2 separate regions of the Homo sapiens genome follow, and region 2 is linked to region 1. Evidence: fine-mapped QTL for protein levels in blood plasma. Region 1 holds a variant in brackets. A gene starts in the other region. All regions are shown on their forward strands.

Region 1 (2,893 bases):
ACACTGGGGGTCAGATGTGTCCCTGGCCACAGGGGATGTCAGGGTCAGCTCTGCTATGGCCAGGGCAGCTATCTTGTCCCAGCTCCCCTGTTCCTCCCATTTGGGGTCCTGAAAAGGGCAATCGTGAACCTGATGGAAGAATGGTGGGGTTCTGGACACAGCGACCCTGGAACAGGGCGCGGGGGAGGACCCTTTCCAGGACCACTCCCATCACATAATGTAGAGGCCACCTATGCTTAGCCCGGCCCTAACCCCAAAGGGGTCAGCCCCACCGGAATCCAGCCTATTGGCTCAGCCTGTCACCACAAAGGCCAGCTTCAGCCCAGATAACTGTTCTGGAAACAGAAAGAGCAGGGACCGCTCAGAAAGGAGATCTCTGTCCCTGTTTGAAAGCCTGGAGTTGAGGGGACAGTGCCCCGCCCCCCGCCCCCCGCAACTTGGGTTGCAGCTGTGGCCTAGTGAGCACGCAGCGCCCCCTGGTGGTCGAGGGGGAATTGCGGGTCCCGGGAAAGGGGGCGGTGTGCCAGCAACAGGGAGCAGGCAGCTCTGCAGCCCTGAACCATCCCTCCCTTGGGTGACTCTTTTGGAAATCATTGTTCCCCAGACAGGAGGTTCCTGAGGTTCATACTTGGGTCTCCAAGTCTTGGGTGCTCTGAAGACAGGATTTTAAATCCCCACTCCTACTATTGGTATGTGTTGCATCAGGGTGGCTTGAGCTGGCCTGGTACACAGTGGGCACTCACGTTTGCTGCCTGTTTGAGACCAAGTGCCTCAGGAGGTCTTGGAGGGTTGGCTGGGGCCCCAAGTCCCTGACCTCTGATTCCAGAGGCCAAGTTTAGCTGGGGAAGAAAGGGCAGAGGCAGTTTCCCTATGGACAGCTAGGCCCGGGTGTAGGATTCAGTTTCTGTTTCCTGACACCAAGGCTTCTCCCCAACTTCCCCATTGGGCTAGAGAAGGAAGAACACAGGGTGACATGGCCAGCTGGAGGTTACTGGCCCACAGATAGGGAGTCAGGGTACGGATGGGCAATTCCTGGAGCAGATTATGGTCAAAATAGTGGAAATCCCCAATCACAGGCCAAATGTTTAATTCTCAGAGCCA[T/C]AGAATCCATAACTAATGCTTATTGGCTTTGACATGGGCAGTAGAAATTTCACACTTCATTCCTTAATCTGGCTCTAAATGCTTCTGGCTGGAGTGCTCACTCTCCAAACTGTGCTGGACAGCACCAGAAGCCCTCCTGTGGACGGACGAAGTGGTGATGGATGAAGTGGAATTGTGCTGGGGTTAGAGTAAGGAGAGATTATCGTTGGGCTGGGCTGGGGCTGAGGTCAGGGTGATGATCAGGTTGGAATTCTGGAAGCAAATTAAGGCTGGGATTGGGGTGGACATTGAGGTTGAGTGATGGGTGGGGGTAAGGGTGAAGGTTGGAGTTGGGTGCAGGTGATGGTTAAGATACGGTGGAGGCTGGGTTGAGATGAGGATGATAGAGTCGGAGTTGTGGTTAGGGTTGGGATGATGGATGGTTGGGATTAGATGAGATGAGTAAATGGTTAGGGTTGGGGTGCAAGTGAGGTGAGGGTGAGATAAGGTTGGAATAGGGGCTGGGGCTGGGGCTGAGGTAGGGTCAGAGCAGGGTGATGGTCGGGACTGGGATTGGGATGCAGGTTGGAAGGATTTGGGGGTGGTGGAAGGGTTTCAGTTGAGTCCATCTTTGATTAGTGTCTTGGACTTGGGTTGGTTTGGGGTCCACCACTCGCACCCAGATGGAGCCCCCCCCCGACCCCTGCCCCTATCCCGCTCAGCCAGTTTCAGCCCAGCCCCGCTCCTAATGCTCCACTCACCCTCTGGGCCCAGGGACCAGGGACAGGGGTACCTGCTCCACAGAAGGAAGTGGCTGCGGCGGTGCTGGACCTGCGGAGAGGAGAACAGGAAGGACGGCCAAGAGCTCCTGGTGCAGCTGGCTCCCCAGGGCTCTGCCGGCTCAAGAGAGAAGGATCCCGTATCAGGGGCTGCTTCCTCTTTCCCAAAGCCTCAGCTCTACTGTCCAACCCAGAGGCTGGTCAGGGAGGCAGCTGCAGGCCTTGCGCAATGCCAAAACGGGAAAGACCTCCATAGGGGAAGGCCCTCGGCAAGGCCAGGGACTTAGGGACTCCAGCAAGCAGAAGTGGGACCGCTGCAACGCTGGAGCCTCCCCAGGCAAAGTGAGAAATGGAGTGGGGGACTCCCATTCACCAGCCAAATCCACACCCCACTCTCTCTGAGCCCCTTAGGGAGGCTGGGGGAGGTGGAAGGGGGCTTCCTGCACACAGCTCTCCTCCCTGACACCTGAGAGGGAGGCGCGCCCAGCCTGGGGTGGGGATGCACTACACGATGCCCAGACCAAGGCAGTTATTCTCCAAGCCATTCAGGAGCCTCCCTGTACCACTGAGTACTCTTAAGAACCCCCAAGAGGCAGTCCCGTGTTGTGGGGGACATAAGGCCCCAATGTCCAGGACACTCCTCAGGTTTTCTCTTTCCCCTCTCACTGTCCTGTACGTTTTTTGGTTTTTGGCTTCTTGTTGTTGGTTTTTTTCTTTTTGTTTTGTTTTTGCTTTTGAGATGGAGTCTCACTCTGTCGTCCAGGCTGGAGTGCGGTGGCACAATCTCAGCTCACGGCAACCTCCACCTCCCGAGTTCAAGTGATCATCTTGCCTCAGCCTCTCGAGTAGCTGGGATTACAGGCATGCACCACCACATCCGGCTAATTTTTGTATTTTTGGTAGAGACGGGGTTTCACCATGTTGTCCAGGTTGGTCTTGAACTCCTGACCCCAAGTAATCTGCCTGCCTCGGCCTCCCAAAGTTCTGGGATTACAGAGGTGAGCCGCTGCACCCGGCCACTATCCTATACCTTC
Region 2 (2,893 bases), not on the chromosome of region 1:
GTCAGCAGTGTGAAGTCTGTTGTGTTTGAGCTTCTCAGAGTGGAATGACTCCTTTTCCTTCCTGGCCCTCGGGGGCCTCTCGAGGTCAGCCTCTCCAACCCCTACCTCAGCTCCTGTCTGCACTGAGAAACCTCCCCGGGTGATGTCTGCAAAGTCTGTGCTGTCCGTGCCCCAGGCTGGGAGAGCTATCTGGGGAGGGGGAGAGGAGGCCGAGCAGAATACACCCCAGAGTTAGGGTTTGCGACTCCGCCTCCCTGGGACCTGGATTGGGTCAGATGCCTGTCCTTGGAGGGGACAAGGTTGACTGCTTAGGAGGCGCGACGCACAGGGCTGCCAGGCCTGGCCCCTCTCTGGGAAGGTTGAGAGCTGAGACGGGCAGCCCTGTCCCTTCCTCCAGATCCGTCTGGTTTTTTACACCGTTTGTTAATAAAGCCTGAAACCGCTGTGTGCCTGTCTCTTCTCTGATGGCTTTCCCAGTCTGTCTCCGGACACCCCCGCCCATTTCTGTCTGGCTTCTCCTTTCCCCAGTTAACATTAATTGTTGGGGGACGGTGCTGGACTGGGAGAAGGGGAGGCTGTGAGCTCAGGGGCAGCCCGAGGCCCTGCCAGCCCTTCTGAGTCACGCTCCCCATTACCGAATTTTTTCCGCCTCACAGCTGCCTGGTGTGCAGGCAGTGGGGTGTGTGTGTGTGTGTGTGAGTGTGTGGAAGAGTGTGTGGAGCCCCTCCCCTTCCCAAGCCTTGACCCTTGTGCTGCTTATCCCCCGACCCCAGCTCCCTCTGGGACAGTGAAGTTCAACCTCTCCTCTCTCAGCTGGGGACTGGGGGCTTCACACTCAGATCCACCAGTGAGTGGGAGGACTGGAGGGCCGGGTCTTTCAGTCTCTTTTCCTAACCCAGGAAGTCCCTCCTGGTGTCTGGCTGCAAATCTTCTTGCTGCTGCACCAAGAACCCCAGGTCTGCCCAGCCCCCAACCCTAGCAGTGGTCTCACTGGATTTCCCTGACCAGACAAGAGGGGAGACAGCAGGTGGGCGCCCCTCCCGCTCATGCTGCGCCCCCCCCGCACACGTCCCCCAACCCCTGTCCTGTGCCTTCCTGCAGCCGGCCACCCCCTAAGCATCTCTGGGCACAGCACTTTGCTGGCTGGAGCCTGCCTGGCCGTCGTCTCCATCTCCCGTGTGGGTGTCTGCAGTTGGACACCCTCCCTCCCGCCCGCCACCCCCCTCCCCCCCATGCCTCAGCAGACGGCCAGCCCCCTCCCGCCCCCCCTCCCCCCCACCGTCCCCTGCCGCCTCCCTGCAGCCTCTTTCTTCCTCCTGGCAAAGCGTCCAGCCCTGCCTGCTCCTCCTCGGGCCTGGGCGCCTCCAGCAGGCACTTCCCTCCCTCCCTCTCTCCCCAGCTGCCTCCTCCTCTTCTCTCCCCGCTCTCCTTCCCCTTTCACCCCATCCCCTGCCCTGGCTGCAACCATGAGGGTCTTGGCCTGCCTCCTTGGTGAGTGATCCATTCTCCTTGGGGACTCGGGGGGCCTAGGCCCCCACCTCTGACCCCTTAGCTTGTCCAGTTTAGGGACTCAAACTTCCGGGACTGGTCGCTGGTGCTCCTGCATACCCTGACATCCCTTCTGAGGATCCCTGCTCAATCTGCCCAGCCTTCTGCCAGCCCAGAAGCCCAAGGGACCTGCCCCCTGCCCGCCCCCCAGCCCTGACCCTGCGGGGGATCTCCCAGACATCTGACCTTTAGCCAAGCCCATGTGTGTGTGTGTGTGTGTGTGTGTGTGTGTGTGTGTGTGTGTTGGGGTATTCAAGATGAGGGGCCTGCGCTGGAGAAAGGGCCACCCCCGGCCTGCCCCTCACACTGCCCCACCCTCCGCCCTCCCTTCCAGCGGCCCTGGTGGGGATCCAGGCTGTTGGTAAGTGCCCAGACTCCTCCCATCTGCCCGCCCCCCCCCCCAGGCCTCCCCCTTCTGCCCATCCAGGCCTGGCCTCACCCCCACTGGGTCCCCGGCCCATCCGAATTCCACTGTGACCTTGGCCCCAGCTCCGCAAGGGAATCCCCCAGGTGTCTGGCCGCATCTCTCTGAGCACCCAGGAGTCTGGGCCCAGGGGCCAGTGAGCAGGGCCACTGGCCTACAGACAGTACCTGCAGGACAGCCACCTGCCCCTACAGTTGCCCTGGCCTTGGGGCCCCCAGGATGCCCCTCCCCAGTCACAGCCATTCCTCCAACCCTCAGAGCGCCTGCGCCTGGCCGATGGCCCCCATGGGTGCGCTGGCCGCCTGGAGGTCTGGCATGGCGGGCGCTGGGGCACCGTGTGTGATGACGGCTGGGACCTGCGCGATGCCGCCGTGGCCTGCCGGCAGCTGGGCTGCGGAGGGGCACTGGCCGCCCCGGGAGGCGCCTTCTTCGGGGAGGGGGCAGGGCCTGTGTGGCTCAGCGAGCTGGCTTGCCGGGGCAACGAGGGGCAGCTGGGCCTCTGCCACCACCGGGGCTGGAAGGCCCACATCTGCTCCCACGAGGAGGACGCGGGCGTCGTCTGCGCAGGTGAGGACACCCTGGCTGCTCCTTCAGGGGGAGCTCCTTTGGAGATGACCCAGGAACCCCAAGTCCTTAGCCCCAGCAAGTCTGAGTGTTCAGCAGTTCAGAGACACCCAACCTCCCATCCCCTCCAAAGCCAGGTGGCTAACTCCCTCTTCCAGGGACCCAAATGGCCTGGATTCCCCTCCTCTCCTCATAGCTTCTGTCCCTGCCCCCCCGCCGCAGGTCAGCGTGTGGCTAACTCCAGGGACGACTCAACATCTCCCCTGGATGGGGCTCCCTGGCCAGGGCTGTTGCTGGAGCTGAGCCCCAGCACGGAGGAGCCCCTGGTGACACATGGTGAGCCCAGGGGACTGCCCT

Which allele goes with the higher level. Positions count from the first base shown, and alleles are read on the strand shown. Strength reflects both the effect of a copy and how common the allele is.
With allele C in place of T in region 1, the plasma level of the protein whose gene starts at base 1,313 in region 2 is higher (strong association).

Evidence for each region. PIP is the posterior inclusion probability: the model's chance that the variant is causal. Protein levels are from antibody-based Olink assays in UK Biobank. Linkage for the fine-mapping came from a reference panel and not from the study's own genotypes, which makes the PIPs less certain.
Region 2: it holds the start of SSC5D, and the variant in region 1 is fine-mapped to the plasma level of the SSC5D protein (UK Biobank, PIP above 0.99).

Annotation. Positions count from the first base shown.
Region 1 is chr20:3,710,597-3,713,489 of GRCh38, forward strand. SIGLEC1 (sialic acid binding Ig like lectin 1) reads right to left here and starts at 2,004. Exons shown (of 22, transcript NM_023068.4): 1 at 1,874-2,004. The variant T/C (reference allele first, on the strand shown) is at 1,102.
Region 2 is chr19:55,487,124-55,490,016 of GRCh38, forward strand. SSC5D (scavenger receptor cysteine rich family member with 5 domains) reads left to right here and starts at 1,313. Exons shown (of 14, transcript NM_001144950.2): 1 at 1,313-1,491; 2 at 1,883-1,909; 3 at 2,231-2,539; 4 at 2,759-2,872. The coding sequence starts at 1,467. NAT14 (N-acetyltransferase 14 (putative)) reads left to right here. Exons shown (of 3, transcript NM_020378.4): 3 at 1-443.